4 linked regions of the Homo sapiens genome follow. The protein of the gene in region 3 interacts with the protein of the main gene of each other region in a biochemical or structural test. Each region holds a gene or a part of one and is shown on either strand. Other genes may lie near its edges.

The links. Proteins that work in one complex are often made in the same cells at the same time.
Region 1: of the proteins of RIPK1 (region 3) and PELI1, one has a biochemical effect on the other in vitro, tested with the Homo sapiens proteins (one study listed by BioGRID).
Region 2: of the proteins of RIPK1 (region 3) and RFFL, one has a biochemical effect on the other in vitro, tested with the Homo sapiens proteins (one study listed by BioGRID).
Region 4: the proteins of RIPK1 (region 3) and ANKRD13A form a complex in vitro, tested with the Homo sapiens proteins (one study listed by BioGRID).

What each region holds. Positions count from the first base shown.
Region 1 is NC_000002.12:64,109,349-64,114,355, reverse strand, and holds part of PELI1 (E3 ubiquitin-protein ligase pellino homolog 1), read left to right. Parts: intron 1-1,683; exon of another isoform or gene 1,684-1,793; intron 1,794-5,007. UniProt on the Homo sapiens protein: E3 ubiquitin ligase catalyzing the covalent attachment of ubiquitin moieties onto substrate proteins. Involved in the TLR and IL-1 signaling pathways via interaction with the complex containing IRAK kinases and TRAF6.
Region 2 is NC_000017.11:35,053,136-35,058,142, forward strand, and holds part of RFFL (E3 ubiquitin-protein ligase rififylin), read right to left. Parts: intron 1,360-5,007; exon of another isoform or gene 1,253-1,359; intron 1-1,252.
Region 3 is NC_000006.12:3,077,495-3,082,995, forward strand, and holds part of RIPK1 (receptor-interacting serine/threonine-protein kinase 1), read left to right. Parts: intron 1-284; coding exon 285-441; intron 442-3,484; coding exon 3,485-3,622; intron 3,623-4,440; exon of another isoform or gene 4,441-5,166; intron 5,167-5,501. UniProt on the Homo sapiens protein: Serine-threonine kinase which is a key regulator of TNF-mediated apoptosis, necroptosis and inflammatory pathways.
Region 4 is NC_000012.12:110,022,495-110,027,501, reverse strand, and holds part of ANKRD13A (ankyrin repeat domain-containing protein 13A), read right to left. Parts: intron 3,457-5,007; coding exon 3,390-3,456; intron 1,761-3,389; coding exon 1,679-1,760; intron 1-1,678. UniProt on the Homo sapiens protein: Ubiquitin-binding protein that specifically recognizes and binds 'Lys-63'-linked ubiquitin. Does not bind 'Lys-48'-linked ubiquitin.

The DNA.
Region 1 (5,007 bases), on a different chromosome or scaffold from region 3:
TGATTAAATTTTCACTCTTATCAAGAAACTGCTATGAATTAAACTCCAGTCATCAGCTGAATTGGTTTCATAAAATGGTTCCACCGCAAACATACTAAAGCAGTTCTTTCTGTTTGAGTCATCCTTTTGAAATCAGCCACAAGGAAACTCTAGTATAGATGGAAATCTGTTTTATCTGAGATAATATATGCAGTCCACATTGTTTTTCATCATAAAAAAATGTTATAACATTTTCATGTTTTAAAACATTTTCCTTTTTTTCTCAGTACCCCATTATGCCTACCCACTTGCCCACTAAAATAGAAGTGCTCAGAAGATATGTAAACAATCTGCATAAGATTTGTTTTGTCCCTTGCTTAGTATTTGTTTTGCTTTTTTTTTTAGGGCAGGAATTTTGTACTTGTGTTTAGTAGGTAGTAAGCAAAAGGCTGTGTGTGATGTAAATAATGAAAGAAAACATTTGTTAGGTTGAGAGACAAAGATTGATTTCTCAGTTTTTCTTCTTTAGGTGAAACTGACAGATATTATACAAAGTCTTTCCTTTGGGAAGACTTGATATGAAAATAATTGTATTTCACTGGCCCTTAAAAAGGAAATGATTAGAATGTTTAACAGTCAAATTAATAATACTATTCCTAATAAATACATATTTTATGAGTAACTTTTCATGTTCTCCCAGCCCACAAAGAAAATAACACTATTCCAGAATATGTTTATTTTAAAATTTTTTTTTAACTCTGGAAGTTTAGTTCCTGCTAATGAGAGCAACATGCTTTCGAGTATCAAGCAAAGTTTCAAAGTAATAGATAAAATAGAAGACAGTTTTATTAGGAAGATTTTCTTTAGCATTTCTTCTAGTCTTGAGTAGAATTAATGGTGCTATTTCATGTTCTTGGTGCTAGATAACATTGGGATAGGGCTGAATACATGAGGTCAAACTAACTTAATTGAAGACCAACAAATGAAGCCAGTAATCGAGACATTCGGATGTTTTTTATGTACATACTCATTTAAAGTTCTCAAGTACATGACTTCAGGAATTTTTTTTTTTTTTTCTTTTTTTTTGAGACAGAGTTTCTCTCCGTCACCCAGGCTGGAGGATCACAGCTCACTGTAGCCTCAAACTCCTGGGCACAAGTGATCCTCCCACCTCAGCTTTCTGAGTAGCTGGGGCTATAGGTGCATGCCATGACATTTGGCTAATGTTTTCTGTTTTTACTTTTTTTTTTTTAAATCTTTTGTAGAGACGGGAGTCTTACTATGTTGCGCAGGCTGGTCTCAAACTCCTGGCCTCAAGTGATCCTCTCACCTTGGCCTCCCAAAGTGCTGGGATTACGGGCATGAGCCACCATGCCCAGCCTAGGAATTCATTTTGAAGAATTCTTTTACTCAGATTTTAAAATATAGAGAGAATATATAAAGACAGTGAGTAGGAAAGCATTGTCTAGGTACTGGTCTTTGTTAAAGAGTATAAACCTTTGGGAAGATCATGAATCTTTCTTCAGAGAACACATAAAAAAAAAAGTTCCAGGAAGAATAGCTGTCACAGCATTTTATTTGCAGTTTAATAAGGCCAGTTGTATATTGATTGATTATATGCCATTTTTAAATTTTGAAAACTATCTTGGGTCATTTATGTATATAAATAACTGGTACTACAAAAGTGTTTTATTTTGGGTTTAGATTATCAAATACAGAAGTAGAAGCCAAGATTGAATGTGTTCCTGTGATTGAAACTTTGATGTCACTGATAAAATATCCCCAGATAAGGCCTTCTAAGAGATCTAAGCAGAGTAAGAATATGTCTGATTGGAAATATATTGTTTTTCTTGGCTAATTTGACCAAGGGCTCTAGAAATTATATGGAGGGTATATGCCAGCCGTACTCTTGTTTTTTAGTTTCTTGTCTAAGCAAAAAAATTGTTCTTTTGCTATAGACGCAATAGAACTAAATCTATAGTGTTATGCACGTTACTTGTAAATTCTTATGTCAGGACCAAATGGTCGCTTATATTTTTTCCAGCTCCCAAATTCCCTTTATTCCACTTTAGTCCCTTCATTTTCAGAGATGAGGAAACAGATTGCTTTGTTCAAAGACAGCTAGAACTAGAACACAGGCTAATACTTGCTAGCCATGTGATATACTAATGTCAGCCAAATACGGGCATTTACACTTTCAGATGTTTGCCATATCTGTGCACTTACTAATTCTATTTAATACAATTTAAATTGACTCCTTTAAATAAGCTTATTTTAAAGGAAATTTTTTGCTACTATAAATAGAAAACCATTATATCCTTTAAATAGTAACTCTAAATAGGAATTCAAAACAAAGCAACGTTATTAAAATTTAATTTAAAATTAATTTAAATTTAATTGTTATTAAATTTTTAATTATTGCTGTTCTTCGTCAGAAATGTGTCAAAGCATTGTTTTCATGTTTGATGTCAGTTCCTTAATTGTCTAAACAGAAAAAGCACAGCTAATGCCTCTAGTTAAGCTTCTGTATAACTTTTTTAAATGAAATGCTTCTTAGAGGGGAAATGAGAGGGCATGAATACATGTTTATATACTAAAGTATGATTTCATGTATATCAGAAGATCTTATTATATGGAACCAAAATTATTCTTTGGTTGATTTAATTGTTCTTGAAACTTCAGTTTTTACCTTGAAGGTTTTAGTTAGCTTAGCATAAGTTTATTTTTCTAAATAAGGAATCTGATTGCCTCACAACTCAGATGTATCACAGTTATGGTGAAATAGCAATATATTGGTTTCTGTAACCTTTTAAATACCGTAATGAATTAAAATCTCTTCAGCAAAAGCAAATATATCTAGGGTGACGAGAGGTGTTTTTAGTGTATTTGAATGATGGAAATGTTTTTCTTAAAATATTTCTGAAGCATTTTTTAAAATAATTTTTTGAATTTATTGATGATAGTAGTTGTGTGTTAGTGTGAATGACTGGTCTAAATGTGTATGTCACTTCCAAGGGATTAGTAGGGGTCAGAATGATTTGTTTTATTCATTGACTTTTCCTTTGACGTGTTCTTATTCATTGGGCTACATACATTCCCTGTTGCCTTCTCACCAAAAGTGCCACTACACAGGCTGTATTTCATTGTACTGTAGAAAAAGACAAGTAGACCTTTTTCATTCATGAGATTCCTATGAAATCTGTTGGTGGAGGTATAAAATGAGGAGACTTTTATGGGCTAGCTAGTAGGAGTTTTGCTGTGAAACCTTTGTAACAGGTCTATCAGGAACTAGGGAGAGAAATAAATGCAGGAAATACTTGATCCCATTAAACTGAGGATGAAAAAGACATGATAATATTTTGGGGATTATTTATTGTGTGATTTTCCGGCTGATCAGAAGTGTTAATTTTTTGTTATACTTGTGTCAAATACATATATATATATATATTTTGAAATGGAGTCTTGCTCTGTCACCCAGGCTGGAGTGCAGTGGTGCGATCTGGGTTCACTGCAACCTCTGCCTCCAGGTTCAAGTGATCCTCCTGCCTCAGCCTCCCGAGTAGCTAGGACTACAGGCACGTGCCACCACGCCCTGCTAATTTTTGTATTCTTAGTGGAGATGGGGTTTCACCATGTTGGCCAGGCTGGTCTTGAACTCCTGACCTCAAGTGATCTTCCCACCTTGGCCTTTCTGAACTATTTCCTTTACACACATTTAGAACTACATCTAACTGTATTATAGTTTTCACTTTCACCATCAGACAAAATTCAGAAGATTCAAGAGAAGGAAAGTCGATTGTATTTACTCATATTTTTGCTACCGTGTTTTTACATCTCATATTTTAAGGTTCTTTTATTTATTTATTTTCTGTTTAGTTAATTTCCTCTAGCCATTCTTTATTTATAGTGGGTCTGCTGGTAACAAATTCTCTCAATTTTTCCTCGTCTGAGAATGTCTTGACTTCCCTTCCATTTTTGTCAGCACCTGAAAAATACTATGCCACTATCTTCTGGGTTCTGTGGTTTCTGATGAGAACTCCACTGTCAGTCTAATTGTCGTTATAAATGCAGTGTTCTCTCTCTCTCTCTGCTTCCAGGATATTTTTTCTTTTTTTTTTTTTTTTTTTTTCTTGAGACGGAGTCTCACTCTGTCGCCCAGGCTGGAGTGCAGTGGCGCAATTTTGGCTCACTGCAAGCTCTGCCTCCCGGGTTCAAGCGATTACTCCCACTTTAGCCTCCCAAGTAGCTAGGACTACAAGGCACACCACCATGCCTGGCTAATTTTTGTATTTTTAGTAGAGACGGGGTTTCACCATGTTGCCCAGGCTGGTCTCGAACTCCTGACATCAAGTGATCTTCCCGCCTCCGCTTCCCAAAGTGCTGGAATTACAGGCGTGAGCCACTGCTCCCAGCCTCTTTATTTTTTCAGCTTTACTCTTTCTTCTGTCTTTTTGACATGTGTGTCCAGTGACACACGTGTTAGATTTTGCTATAGTCTCACGCACGGGTCTATAAGGCTCTGTTTTTTGTTTCATTTTGTTTTTCCTATTTTCTCTCTATTCAGATCGAGTAATTTCCACTGTTCAGTTTTATCATAGCTGCTTTTAAATCTTTGTCAGGTAATTCTGTCATCTAAGTTTTGGCACCTATTGATTATCTTTTGCATTGTTTTTGTTTTTGTTTCTGTTTTTGTTTTGAGATGGAGTCTTGCTCTGTTGCCCAGGTTGGAGTGCAGTGGCACTGATCTCGGCTCACTGCAACCTCCTCCTCCCGGGTTCAAGTGGTTCTCCTGCCTCAACCTCCTTAGTAGCTGGGATTACAGGCATGTGCCACCACGCCCGGCTAATTTTGTATTTTTAGTAGAGACCAGGTTTATCCATGTTGGTCAGGCTGGTCTCAAACTCCCAACCTCAAGTGATCCGCCTGCCTCGACCTCCCAAAGTGCTGGGATTACAGGCGTGAACCACTGCACCCAGCCTATCTTTTGCATTGTTTTAAATCTTGTTCTTGCTAGGATGAATGATTTTC
Region 2 (5,007 bases), on a different chromosome or scaffold from region 3:
ACAGGAAGGAGTTGATGGACTAGGAGCTGGAAGAAACTCAAAAACTTAACCCATAAAATTAAGATAATAAAATCAACACAAAATCAATGTGCACAGATATGTAAAGTTCCTCCAAAGAGACAGAGTATCTTCCAAACCAAAAGCAAGAAGAGGACAAAAAGGCTTGGATGACTATATTAATACACGGGTATTTAAACAAAGAATGTGACCACATCTAAGACTGGTTAACAAAGAAATCTGGAAAAATCTAGAAAAAACAGGGAGGGGCATTTTGACTCCAGAACTGCCCAAAGCCAAGAAATACTAGAGATAGGTGACACAACATCTTCTCTGCAGTGGAACAAGGTTATTTCACAAAGCTTAGATGGGTACAGCATATAGTAGCAGCTAGGGGTAGGGGCTCTTAGGGGCAGAGGGACTTGGTTCAAATCTCAGTTCAGCATCTTATCAGCTTGAAGAGAGCTTGGTTTCCTCATTTGTAAATTGAAGATAATTGTACCTACTTTGCAGGAGGATCACTGGGACAATGAAATGCCCTACTGTATGCAAAGTACTTAATACAATACCAGGCATTATGGGAAACAATAATCTTTTTTGTAACTATATTCTCCCCCACAAACCATTCTATCTTATAAATCCATGCTCACCAAGCAAGCTTGATATTATTAAATTTGATTGCCAGATCTCTTGATATTGAAAAGCAATTATCCTAACAAATTCCAGAATCCCGTTAACGGAAAAGGAATCCTTCATTCTAAAATAATAAATTGGCATTCCATTCTGAGCTCAATCACTCAAGTCTGAATACAATCCTGTCTTCAAGACTAATTATTTCCAGGTTCTCCACAAAATACATTTTGTGACCCAAGACTAGACTGACGACACAGTGACCAAAATCCTGAGGGGTCATCCTGAGAAGCTAGATTGGCACCACCCTGGCCAGCCCTACCTAATGCCACCCTCGCTCTACAAGCTAACTTGTATAATACTTTCCCATACTTCTCCACCTTCCACCCCTGTCATACCCTTCAATCAAGCACTATAGTGAAGCACTTTACCTTCCTCTCTAACCGTGTAGAGGTCAAATACACCATCTTATCCATTTTTGCATTTTCCTCCATATCCCAATATAACTTGCATCAAAAGAACCACAATAAATATTTACTGTAAAACACAATTTTGCTTAACAACACAAGCCATTGCATTCCACCATTCCCACAAGCTGAGGCCTCTTTCTGATTTATTTTTCCCACATCAGATGGGTAATGCACTGACTTTGTAGTAACAAGGCTTGATGGAGGCACATCTCATACATGTGCATGAAAATCCAATCATTACACTTATGAACAACAAAATAATCCCCTTTCTAATTTACTGAACTCTTACTCTATCTTTTATCTTCCCCTCCCTCCCCCACCTCTCCATTCCTAAACTGCCAGATTACTATAGAAAAATCAGAAGACTTTATTTAACTGGGTTGCTAACAAATTCATACAGCTGGGGTAAGCCATCACTGGGCTCTAAAAACCTTTCATTCCTCTCTAGCTGATGTCCTGATAGGGCTTTCCAAAGAGCAGTGTCATGCAAGGTTTAGGAGCATGGGGCCTGGGTCAGACAGAACTCATAGTCTTCTTTCTGTGTGACCTGTTAAGGTGATTAATTCCCTAAGCGTCATTTTTCTCATCTGTAAAATGAAGTACCTAAAAGAGGTCATTCACACAAATCCTTAACACTAACACAGTGACAGGCTTAGAGTAGGTGCTTAGTAAACACCGATCCAACAGCTTTTTTTTTTTTTTTGAGATTGAGTCTTGCTTTGTTGCCCAGGCTGGAGTGCAGTGGCGCGATTTTGGCTCACTGCAAGCTCCACCTCCCGGGTTCACGCCATTCTCCTGCCTCAGCCTCCTGAGTAGCTGGGACTACGGGTGCCCACCAGCACGCCTGGCCAATTTTTTTGTATTTTTAGTAGACACGGGGTTTCACCGTGTTAGCCAAGATGGTCTCGATCTCCTGACCTCGTGATCCACTTGCCTCGGCCTCCCAAAGTGCTGGGATTACAGGCGTGAGCCACAGCGCCCGGCCAATGGTCACCAATGATCTTCTGATGGATAAATGTGTGATTCTTTCCTATGTCCTCAACCTTCATGACTCCCTGAAGCCCCATGCACCCAAAACCTACCCAAATTCTTCATTATGAAGCTGTCTTCAGAGGGTTACCAAGAACTATGGACAGAAATATAACTTTAATTAAGCATTAGGCCAGGTGCGATGGCTCACCTGTAATCCCAGCACTTTGGGAGGCCAAGGTGGGCGGATCACCTGAGGTCAGGAGTTTGAGACCAGCCTGGCCAAAACGGTGAAAACCCATCTCTACTAAAAATACAAAATTAGCCAGGTGTGGTGGCACACACCTGTAGTCTAGCTACTCAGGAGGCTGAGGCAGGAGAATCACTTGAACCCAGGAGGCAGAGGTTGCAGTGAGCCGAGATCATGCCATTGCACTCCAGCCTGGGCCACAAGAGCAAAACTCCATCTCAAAAAAAAACAAACAAACAAACAAACAAAAAAAAAACATTAATCAGGCTGGATTTTGACACATTTCCTTGTAACTGAAAGTCACACAGCGCTAGATACTGACCATTTGCATCCCTATTGTTTCTAAAGATAGTATCTCTGACATTAGAAGCATAAGGCTTTTTTTTTAAGAATTGCTTGAGATATTTTTCAGATCCCAAATTCTGGTAAAACAGCTGATGCCAACCAGTTTGAAGACCCTCAGAGAGAAATAAAATCAGCATAATACAGTTTTTTCATCTCCGGGTCCCATTACTTCACCTTTCTCTCTCTGACCACCCAACAATCTCCACATTCCAGCCCACTCCAAAATCCTTAAAAACCCTAGCTCCAAACTCCTCAGGAGGACGGATTTGCAGTTCCCTCTCATCTCCTCATTCTGCAGCCCAACAAATAAACCCCGCCCCCAGGTCTTGGGTATTGACTTGCCACACATCAGACAGCACACTTACTCTGGATACACTTGAATTCCCCTTACAGACTCCTTCTCCCACACTGGCTCCCACTGCAAGCGTGGTAGCCTGACTTACCTTTGACATCAATGACCACTCTTGCTCCCTTATTTTCCTTCCCTGGTTCCTTCTTTTGCCCCCTACATAGGCCCTAGGGTTCTGTACTCCATACTCTTCCTTCTTCCTTTCCTTCTCTAGTGAATTTTACTTCTACTTTTTTTTTTTTTTTTTTTTGAGACAAAGTTTTGCTCTGTTGCCCAGGCTGGAATGCAGTGGCATGATCTCGGCTCACCACAACCTCCGCCTCCTGGGTTCAAATGATTCTCCTGCCTCAGCCTTCTGAGTAGCTGGGATTACAGGCATGCACCACCACGCCCGGCTAATTTTGTATTTTTAGTAGAGACGGGATTTCTCCATGTTGGTCAGGCTGGTCTCAAACTCCTGACCTCAGGTGATCTGCCCACTTCAGCCTCCCAAAGTGCTGGGATTACAGGCGTGAGCCACCATGCCCAGCCTGGTTCTACTTTTTAAATGCATCCTGCAACTATCCCGTTCTATGTCCACTGCCATATCCTGCCCTATCTGCGATGATCCTTCTCAAGAAGGGAGACAAACACTTCCTTACTGGTCCCTTCTTTGTGACTCTCTATTCTCTACAGAGTAGCCAGGGTAACCTTTTATTTAGAAAAAGAATCTTTGCTTGTCACTTTCTGTTTTAAGCCTTCAATGGTGTCCCACCACCCTTTTTTTTTTTCTTTTTCTTTTTTTTTGAGACAGAGTTTTCACTTTTGTTACCCAGGCTGGAGTACAGTGGTGCAACCTCGGCTCACTGCAACATCCACCTCCCGGGTTCCAACAATTCTCCTGCCTCAGCCTCCCGAGTAGCACGGATTACAGGCATAAGCCACCATGCCTGGCTAAAATTTTTTATATTTTTAGTAGAGATGGGGTTTCACCACGTTGACCAGGCTGGTCTCAAACTCCTGACCTCAGGTGATCCACCTGCCTCAGCCTCCCAAAGTGCTAGGATTACAGGTGTGAGCCACCATGCCCAGCCCCACCACACTTTTGAGTGAAGGCTAGACTCACTATCTAGCCCACAAAGTCCCCATGTGATGTGGGCTCTGCTTGCCTTTTCCACTTTACCTCATGCAGCTCTCCCACTTCACTCACCTTGCTCTGTCCTTCGGTCACCTTCCTTCAATTCCTCAAAAATTATAAATTATTTATTGCCCCAGGGCCTACAAACTTGGGTTCCTTTTCTGGCTGAAACATTCTCCCTAGCTCTTTTCACAAGACTGGCTCCTTCTCAGACTGCAGTTCACCTTCCCTATAACATAGCTGTCTGGCACACAGTAGGAGCTTACCAGGTATTTGTGAAAGGAACAGATTTCACATTCTCCAGTCAGGTAACTCCCAAAAGTGAATATCTGGAATCAATCTCACCCTTCAGATCAGTGCTTCATTTCTAAATGCCTGCTAAATTTCCATACCTCAAACTTAGCATACTAGATATAAAACCAACTCTTCCATTTTCCCAAACCAGTTTCTCCAGTTTTCTGAAATTACATGAGCAATATGATCCAGTTTCCACTTCAGAACAATAAATTTCCCATTCATTTGCTCTACCTGTCCAAAATTCCAATCACCTTTAAAGCTAAATTCAAATATCACTTCATTCAATCATGCATTCAATCAACCACTTATTCATTCAACAAGTACTTACTGAGTGCCTTTTATGAGGCAGACACTATGTTAGATACTCGAAAGCAAAGCAGATGTATTTTTGTCTATTATACATCAAACAATCATATAAATATTGAATTATGAACTAAAAAAAAAGTAATGAAGGAAAAATGCCAGAAAACATGAGAAAAAAATGAGAGGCATCAAGAAACACTGTTCTGATGATGGGCTGATTTAATGAAATATAATTTACACTAGGCAGACTGGAAAGAAGAGCATGCTAGATAGGATTCAA
Region 3 (5,501 bases):
TTTTCAGGTTACCTTGCTGCTGTTCATGTACTTTTCATTCATTGATTCATTCATTCCTTCATTGATTTACATTTTTGGAGCATGCACTGCCAGTTACTGGGCAGGAGTACTGTGAGGAAGTGAGAAACCGCTCTGCCTTCTAACGCTTCTGGCCTGTGCCTGGAAGAGATCGGTACAGACCCAAGCATGACCCCAGCACGTGGGAGTGATGTGTTGGAGGTGTGCACCAGGCTCTTGAGGCGCTGGCTCTGCCAGCCTCAGCATAGCACCTTTCCTGCCCACAGGCACAACGAGGCCCTCTTGGAGGAGGCGAAGATGATGAACAGACTGAGACACAGCCGGGTGGTGAAGCTCCTGGGCGTCATCATAGAGGAAGGGAAGTACTCCCTGGTGATGGAGTACATGGAGAAGGGCAACCTGATGCACGTGCTGAAAGCCGAGGTAGAGAGGGCCCCTCCGCACGGGGATCCCCAGCGCTTGGGCCCTGGCTGTCTGTTATGGCTCCCCTTGGGGTGTTTGTTTGCAGCTCGTTAGCATCAAATTTGCAAATTGCTTGGTAGTTTGAATTTTCTTTTCCTTTTTTTATAGAGACAAGGTCTTGCTATGTTGCCCAGGCTGAACTCCAACACCTGGTCTCAAGTGATCCTCCCACCTCAGCCTCTCAAGTAGCTGGGATTACAGGCTGGATTTCCTGAAGTCAGTTTCTCCTTAAAACATCTATGCCTTGATTGGGCTCCGTGGGTCACTTCTGTAATCTCAGCACTTTTGGCAGGAGGATCACTTGAGCCTTGGTGCTCAAGACCAGCCTGGATAACACAGTGAAATCCCCTCTCTACAAAAAATAAAAGGTGCATGTGAACAGAGCAAGACCCTGTCTCTGAAAAAAAGAGAAAATCTTCCTTGCCTTTTACTGCCCTGAGAGTGGTCTCTTCATCCTCTCGATCCTGTGGACAGTCCTCCATAGTCTGTGTCTTAGGAATGTGATTGGCTGTTTACCATACCTGTCCGCTGCTCTGCAATCTACAGTTCAGAGACAAGCCCTGTCTTCATGATGCAGACATCATCTGATGTAGAGTATATGCATGATGGGATGACATTAAATATGGATTAATGAAAGGATATACACTATAAATGACCGTGAGAGCAGATAGAATATTAGTGGTTGCACTTTGATACCATTCAACAAAGTTTTATTTTAAATTAAATATAGAAATTATTGGCAACAACACTGGATAGGATTTAAAACAAAAATAAAAATTGTTTACCAAAGTCAAATGATTTGAAAACATTTTTAAAAGCTTATGTGCCTGTTAAGATGAAGGCCTTGCGCTAGTTGCTCATGAATCAATAGCTAATATGACGTAGGAGAGTAAAAGGAGGCAGATAGCTAAATAAGTGGTATGGTGTGATGGGGTTTTTTTTTTTTCTTTTGTAAGAGAACAAGGTCTCACTGTGTTGCCCAGGCTGGAGTGCAGTGGCACAATCATAGTGCACTGCAGGCTTGAACTCCTGGCCTTAAATGATCCTCTCACCTCAGCCTCCTGAGTAGCTGGGACTATGGGCATGAGCCACTGCACCCAGCTGTGTGGTGGTATTTTTTTTTTTAGAGGAGTCTCGCTCTGTCGCCCAGGCTGGAGTGCAATGGTGCAATCTCGGCTCACTGCAACCTCCACCTCCCTGGTTCAAGCAACTCTCCTGCCTCAGCCTCTTGAGTAGCTGGGATTACAGGCGCCTACCACCATGCCTGGCTATTTTTTTAATTTTTAGTAGAGACAAGTTTTCACCATGTTGGTCAGGCTGGTCTCGAACTCCTGACCTCGTGATCCGACTGCCTTGGCCTCCCGAAGTTCTGGGATTACAGGCATGAGCCACCGTTCCCAGCTGATGGTGTTTTGATAGACATACTCATTGCTGAGGGAGTACACATGAGAGGCACCCACTCAGCCTGGAATAGACAGAAAAGGCTTCCAATGTGAAGGACATGTAGACGTTTTGAAGCAGAGAATTAGAGAACAAGTGTTCTAGGCAGAGAGAATACCATGTAGAGACTGCCAAATTTGGGGAACTGTAAATTCCTGGGTTTGGCTAGAGCATAGATTGCACAGGGTATGGGGAGGGGTGGCGGGATATGGCTGCCTTTATGGCAAATACTCCCACTTTTCCACTTTCTTCTCCCACCCCACAATTGCCAAGCCAACAGACATCTCACAAAAATACCCTTGGGAAGGAGAAGAGGTGATCACTTATACGCATGGTATTATAGTTTGATCAGATTGCTCTCCACCCCAGAACTAGAGAAGATCAGCTGTTTGAAGTAAACATTTTGATTGGGAAATAAGTCTTTGGTCTCCCATCCAAGTACTAACCAGGCCCAACCCTGCTTAGCTTCTGAGATGAGAGAGAAATCATTGGGGACATGAGGCATTGTGCAAGATGAGGGAAAGTTCAGGTGCACCTGTTTGGACTCAGTCAGGGCATCAGGAGGACCTGAGAGAGAAGCAGAAAGAGAGGAGAGAGGGGGACCAACTTTGCTTACTCAGAAGTTTTTCCTAAGTCCAAAGGTATACCAAGGAAGAAGAGAAAACATCTTTTCTGCTACTTTCTGTATGGTGGTGATCAAGCTATTAACAGTGTAGCTCTGCTACGTTATGTCATAAATATGGTTTGAGGGGGAATCTCACTTCTATCATTAAAATTTTTTTCCTGTTAACCAACGACCAAAATACATATACATTTTTAGGAAACATCTTGTTTGTATACTGATTTTTTATTGTTAAGCAAAACTGTAATTTAACCACTATAATAGAAACTGGAATTGTTTCTGTTAGTATTGATGCTCACATAACAAGAATACAATTATAAGAACCAGTGACCTGAGACTCTACAGAAGCCTGAAGTATCTGCTACCAGGTCATCAAATAGATATTAATTCACTTAAGCGTAGTTTTAACATCATGTTTATCTCAGATTTTTCTATGATTGTAATCAGTGTGAACATGTTCCCTTGTATTCTTTTTTCTCTTAATGTTATTTTACACGCGACATTTGCATGGCATTGTTCATGTCCTTAATGTAAACTTAGTATGATGTCGTGTGAGTATCCCACAGAAACTGCTTGCTCGTATATTTATTCATCCATTCATTCAACAAGCATTCCAGGTACAATCCTAGGTTCTAAAGATACAGTCCTAAATAATATATATTTTTGTTCTCAAGGAGCTTAATTTTATAGTATTTTATGCATTACCAAATTATTGTGGGATTTTTGTTTTTACACTAACAAAATACAACACGAATACCCTCTGCCCCCCCCCGAATGAAATCTTTCTTGTTTCCCAGTGACAGCAGTACTGTGGTGCACCTGCTGGAAGGAAACCTGGTAACCTTCTCCTCAGGCTCAGATCCCACCACCCTTTCATGAAACAGTTGCTTTGGCCTATTTGATAACCTTTCCATTTCATAGACTTAATATCACTTGTTTTAGATGAGTACTCCGCTTTCTGTAAAAGGAAGGATAATTTTGGAAATCATTGAAGGAATGTGCTACTTACATGGAAAAGGCGTGATACACAAGGACCTGAAGCCTGAAAATATCCTTGTTGATAATGACTTCCACATTAAGGTAAACCATCATCGGTAGGCTTCCAGAAAGTTGGGTGATTTTAGTTTTAATTCTCCAATGTAAATCCATTCTCGTACATTGGAGAAGCTAAAGGAAGACCTAGCTCAGCTTATAACTGTTGATGATGGTGCCGAAAGGCTCTACCGGTGATTGAGAGGAAGGCTGCAGGCTTGATGGGATCAGGAGATAACTGTCAGGATAACTCATATCTTTTGGGGGAGGAGTGGAGTTGAATGGGGTAGATGAGAAGACCTCTTTCCTAGACTGTGTTTTTTCCTCTGTTAGAAACATTTAGAAACATTCAAGGGTTGCCCTTTTCATCCTGGAATGGGCCATTGGTGTCATAATGTTCTCCAGGAAATCTGTGTCACCAAGACTCTCCTCCTCTGGAAATGCAGGGGAATGTGAAGGTGTGTGCGGAAAATCCTTAGAGTTCAGATATGGCCTAAGAGTGAGATCAGCGGCCGGGTGCAGTGGCCCACGCCTGTTATCTCAGCACTTTGGGAGGCTGAGGTGGGCGGATCACCTGAGGTCGGGAGTTCGAGACCAGCCTGACCAACATGGAGAAACCCCATCTCTACTGAAAATACAAAATCAGCCGGGCGTGGTGGTGCATGCCTGTAATTCCAGCTACTCGGGAGGCTGGGGCAGGAGAATCGCCTGAACCGGGGAGGTGGAGGTTGTGGTGAGCCGAGATTGTGCCATCGCACTCCAGCCTGGGCAACAAGAGCGAAACTCTGCCTTAAAAAAAAAAAAAAAAAAAAAAAAAAAAAAAAAAAAAAAAAAAAATCAGCAGTGCATCAAAAACCTCTACTTTGAAATTTTGTTTTATATTTGTATTCGATTGTTTACTTCTGTCTGTATTTTAAAAATCAGTTTCCTTTGAACACATTCTTTCCATTGTCGTAAAGGGAACAAGGGAAAGGGATTTTTCTTTTGTTCATTCAAGGGCAGGATTTAGCTAGGGGGAGTGTCATATCTAATTGGCTTCTGCAGCAGGAATCCAAGCACAAGAATCCAAAAGGGGAAGCGGAAGGGGAAGCAGCCCTGGGGGAGGCACCCAGGAGCTGCTGACACAGGGGCCTCTCATCACCAGCAGGTTCTGCGTCTAGCGCTTTGTCCTAGTCTTGGACAAAGGGCTGGGAATAAAAATTCCTTATTCATAACCTATCTTCAAATTCATGACTTCCCTCTTATGTCGTGGGTTAGAATCTGTGAATTTTAGGTACTCATGTGCCACAGTTCATCCCCACATGCTTGCTTGGATTCCTGGAGGCAGAAGTGGAACTGGCACCTATATTCTCTTCTGAACTGTGCTGCCCTGTCATTTTGCCCTGCCAGCACTGTTCTTGTTCTGTGTCTGACCTTGCTATTTTTCTCTCTGCTTTTTTGTCTGTTTTTCTCCTCCTTTCCACCCTATCTCCTCTTAGGTTCAGGCTACAGCTCAAAACAAGCAACACTGCAGTCCTTATCCTCAGTGTGTCTTTGGGATCCTTGGACACTTGCATCCATGGGCCTCTGGACGCCATTTGGGGAAATAGAAGGTGTAGTATTTAGCCACTGTCTGCTGCATAAATGTGCAGAGAAGAAAATAACCATTTTCCCCCCAAGCCCTAGAAATAGTTGAAAAACATACGCAGAGTCAATGGGGAATGAGAATAAATATGTTTGGTTGTTACTGTTCTTGTCAGAAACATCTTCCGCTTTTCCCCTCCCCCTTACTGCATAAGGAATACGATACCAGAATTTCATGTGAACGTTTCCTGGGCGACATTTTACAAATGGCTGAGGAGACACACAGTTTCTATGAGTCTGTTGAGAAGTCGCTGTTTTGAACCTGCCCAGTGCAACCATTTCTGGAAAATTTACCGTACCTTAT
Region 4 (5,007 bases), on a different chromosome or scaffold from region 3:
GTTGTAAGAATTAAAGCAGAATAATGGGAAGAGTCTGGATTTTGGAGTGAGCCAGACCTGGATTCCAACCCCACCTTGGCCACTCGCTACCCATGTGTTCTGGGCCTCAGTTCCCTCATCTGTCAAAGTGGAGTAATGGCAATGGTGGTGGTGGTGCTGGTGAACAATTACTGCATGCTTACCACATACTGCAGGCGCCATTCTAAAGGCTTCCACGTCGTAACTCATCTAATCCTCTCAATAACTCTAAGGAAGGTTGGGTATCACCTGCATTTCACTGCTGAGGAACTAAGGCACAGAGCAGAAGTAATTTCACAAGGCCATAGAACTGGTGGGGCTGGGATGGGGCTGGGATGTGGCAACCACATGCAATGTTTTTGCTTGGACCCCAAGTTCTGTCTAAATCTTTCATCACAATAGTTTGGACTAAATCACTCATTCCAATGATAAATATTCTCAAATGTCCTTATCTCCTTTTTTGGCTGAATTCAACAATTGTTCTTGATAACACATAAACAAGCCCTCACGAATAGCTTTAATTACAGCTGAGGCCAACTATGGGGAAACACCTCCAAGAATGAGTCAGACTAAGGAAATTTTCTTTCCTTTTTCTTTTTTTTGAGACAGAGTCTAGCTCTGTCACCCAGGCTGGAGTGCAGTGGGACAATCTTGGCTCACAGCAACCTCCACCTCTGGGGTTCAAGCGATTCTCCTGCCTCAGCCTCCCCAGTAGCTGAGACTACAGGAGTGCGCCACCACGCCTGGTTAATTTTTGTATTTTTAGTAAAGATAGGGTTTCACCATATTGGCCAGGCTGGTCTCAAACTCCTGGCCTCAAGTGATCTGCCCACCTTGGCCTCCCAAAGTGTTGGGATTACAGGTGTGAGCCACCGTGCTCAGCCAGGAAATTTTTTTTTTTTTTTTGAGATGGAGTTTCACTCTTGTTGTCCAGGCTGGAGTGCAATGGCACGATCTCAGCTCACCAAAACCTCCGCCTGCCAGGTTCAAGTGATTCTCCTGCCTCAGCCTCCTGAGTAGCTGGGATTACAGCCATGGGCCACCACACCCAGCTAATTTTGTATTTTTTTTTAGCACAGATGGGGTTTCTCCATGTTGGTCAGGCTGGTCTTGAATTCCCGACCTCAGGTGACTCGCCCACATTGGCCTCCCAAAGTGTTGGGATTACAAGCATGAGCCACCGTGCCTGGCCAGAAATTTTTATAAAAAAGAAGTTAGGGGCCAGGCACGGTGGCTCACGCCTGTAATCTCAGCACTTTCGGAGGCCGAGGTGGGTGAGGATCACCTGATGTCAGGAGTTCGAGACCAGCCTGGCCAACATGGTGAAACCCCGTCTCTACTGAAAATACAAAAAATTAGCCGGGCGTGGTGGTGGGTGCTTGTAATCCCAGCTACTCAGGAGGCTGAGGCAGGAGAATCACTTGAACCCAGGAGGCAGAGGTTGCAGTGAGCCAAGGTCGTGCCACTGCACTCCAGCCTGGGTGACAGGGCGAGACTTTGCCTCAAAAAAAAAAAAAAAGAGAGAGAGAGAGAAGAAGTTAGGGTTAGGCTTAACACAACCCAATCACATTAACCCTAAACTTAACAGAGCCAACAAAGAGTTCCCTCTAGGCTTAAAAAATAACAACAAAACAGGAGGTGGGAGGGTGGTGGTGATTACCTTTATATCTCTTTTTTTCCTCCTCGGTCAGATGTTCTGTGCGTATTTTGGTGATCACATTCACATTGTTTACTGTGTAAACCTGAGAGGTGTATGCGAAAGAAAACAGTGACACAGGGAATCAAAACTCCAAAAGTAAGCACAGCAAAAGCAAGAATGCTGAAGCAAAAAACAGAAAACAATCCAGCAAAATAAAAATGAGAAATGGTTAACTATCATTAGGATCCTTCAGAGAAAGTATATAAACTATCAACTGAAAAATGCATCAGCAGTTACCTCCCATGTTTGACAGTTTTAATACTAAGGAGTTAGCAGTGACAGGCTGCATCTTCCTGCTTGCCCTGCTGTGGCTAAATAGTCTCAAACAAATGCCCTGCAATCTAGGTTTCCACCTGGGTTTCTATTAAACTAAGGTACCCAAACCAGGATCCTGTACTTCTGTTGGTAATTTTTTTTTTTTTTTTTTTTGAGACAGAGTCTCCCTCTGTTGCCCAGGCTGGAGTGCAGTGGCGTGATCTCTGCTCACTGCAGCCTCCGCCTCCTGGGTTCAAGCGATTCTCGTGCCTCAGCCTCCAGAGTAGCTGGGATTACAGGCATGTGCTACTATGACTGGTTAATTTTCGTATTTTTAGTAGAGACGGGGTTTCACCATGTTGGCCAGGCTGGTCTCAAAATCCTGGCCTCAAGTGATCTGCCTACTTGGGCCTCCCAAAGTGCTGGGATTACAGGCGTGAGCCACTGCACCCAGCCTCCGCTGGTAGTCTTGTAATACTAGTATGACTCAGACAGCCATCTGCTGGGCAGAAGAGAAAGGTATGAACACAAGGTTCTCTATAGACTTATGAGCTGTAGAGAAAACCAGCAAGTCACTATTTAAAAGGCATTCTGTGCACTGACAAAAATTATTGTAACTGCCAGAGCAAATGCTCTGTTATCAAGGATAACTGGGGAATATGGTGGTCTAGAAAATCAAACATAACAGTTAACAAAGAATTCTCTCTATATGCCACGTGAGGAGCCCCAACATTCAAAGCTGCAGAAAACACACTCAGCACTATGACAAGTGCTTCTAAATGTATCTTGCTGAGCATGACGTAAGCCTTTCTTTGCTCACTCAGAGGCCACCAGAGGACCCTGCAGCACTGGGCTCCAACACCAAAAGCCATCAATCCCTGTTGTACTGAGGGACTGAAAGGCCAGGAAACAGCTTTCCAGCTGACAAAATGCCAGATGACTGGATCAACAATCGTCTCCACTATTACAACTATGTTTTAAATGCACTGATGTCATGCAAATGGGCTGTGCGCCTGCTGATTACAATTAAGCTGATTTAACAAAAAAGAGACTCAAAAGCTACTACACAACATTTGAACACATGTGAAGTCTAATCCTTCCTCTTCCTTTTTTTTTTTTAAATAATTAAGGGAATGACTAGCTTGTCATTCCTACCAGAACAACTGGTACCTGTACTCATTTCTCTACCATATTGTTTCTCTTTAGCATAGCTACAGACCTCCTCAGGGCATGCTATCCCATTTTCTGAAAGTCAAATAAGACAAAATCAAACATCCAAGTGAGAGACACATTAGACAGTTCTCATTCCCCAGAGCATCTCCATGGCACAGATGCATGAAAAAAATGGGAACAGATTCCTCATTTGCATAGAAGCTAAATAGCTATATTAAATCTTATTTTAAGAGTTTCCTTTTACCTTTGCTTCGTAACCATTAACAACTTCTGCTTTATCTGTCCTCCAGCCCCAGAATCCGGATTTAGTTCTGATAAAAAGTGAACACCACAAATTTCTACATGTACAATATGCCATTCAGATTTATATCTGTAGCCTTTATAGTTTTTTTCCCCCCCAGCTTAAGTTAGTGAAGGACACTTGGAAATCATGGTCCTATTGTCCACAGGAGGCGGTTAGCAATGACAGATGGCTTATGCACCCTCCACCCTCCTCCCACAGTTATTAATCAATTTGCCTCACCCCAGGCATAGAAAGCCTCCAATCTTGGCTTCTTTACAAAACTGCCAGCATTGAGGACAAAGGTGGTGACATTTATTGGACAGCAGTCCCAAAGAAGTGACTGAAGATGACCAGCATCCAAGGGCTTGCCACAAGGTGGTAACCAGGTCAGAGCATTTATCTGGGTCATCTTAACTGGGGACATGCATGTCAATGGTGGGATCTCCACAAGTAGCCACATCTCACTCGAGGAATTCTTAGAACAATGAGGCACAGACCATCCTGCTCCTTACAAAAGAGCAGGTGGGCCAGGAACTCATCACTGTGGTGAGCTGCTTGGAGATGCCATTAGGTCTGCAAAATAGCTGAGTCACATGTTTGGGCAGGTTTGGTGCAGCAGGGCAAAGGATGTGAAAAACAGATTTTTTTAGCCCAGCTGTTAATTCCATCTCTGTGGAACTCCTTTTAAAGTAGCCCAGCATTCCAGTGGCAGATGCAGCATTGGTAATATGCCCAAAATCTCAGTTATTCAACTCAACATACTCCTGAAAAAAAATGTATTTAGGAACCAAAAGCAGCCAGGAGGCTCTGATTCTTTTTCAAAGCAGCTTGCCCTGGGAAACGCTCCCTCTCACAGGGGATCCCTGACCAGCCCTACCCTTTGTCTAGGACATCACATCCCAGCTCCTCTTGGCCCTGGCTACGGCAACAGCCTGACTTCTGCTCTGACCACTGAGTGGTTGGGATGTCATGCAGGAAGCTCAGGGAACAGCAGCAGGTTAGCCACGTTACAAAGAACATATGCGGTTATTAGCATTTTGTTTCCAAATAGTTTGCTTTTCTTCTAATGGGATTTGGTCAATGAAATTAGTCCAGATGGTATAATGAGTTTATGTGTCTATTTTAGCCCATCAGAACAGGAGGGATCAGAGCTCCCATTTTCCTACTAGTTGTCTACAATTAGGACAGCACAACCCGTGGATGGAAACAGAGGAATCCTAAAAGTATTATACCAAATGCTATCTCCAACTGACACTTCAGAAACAAGATAACAGTCACAGGGGCAGAAGGTAAGGAACCAGACTCAACTGATTAATAAGCTACAATCCCCTTTTATCATTAATACCAGAAAATCGAGATAGCCTTTTTCCTTCAATCCTCAGTTCCTTGTTTGCTTAAGTCACTTGATGTCTTGCCACAGGAAGTCACTGTTTTCTGGCACAGACTCTTCTGATGGATGGAAAGATGATTACGTCTGCTCCACCTCACCCTTCATGCACGCTGGGAAGACGGCGCTATGCTTTTCTCCCAAGGAACCACCAAGCTCCTCACCGGGCTACCTCTGCTCCTTCGGCAATCC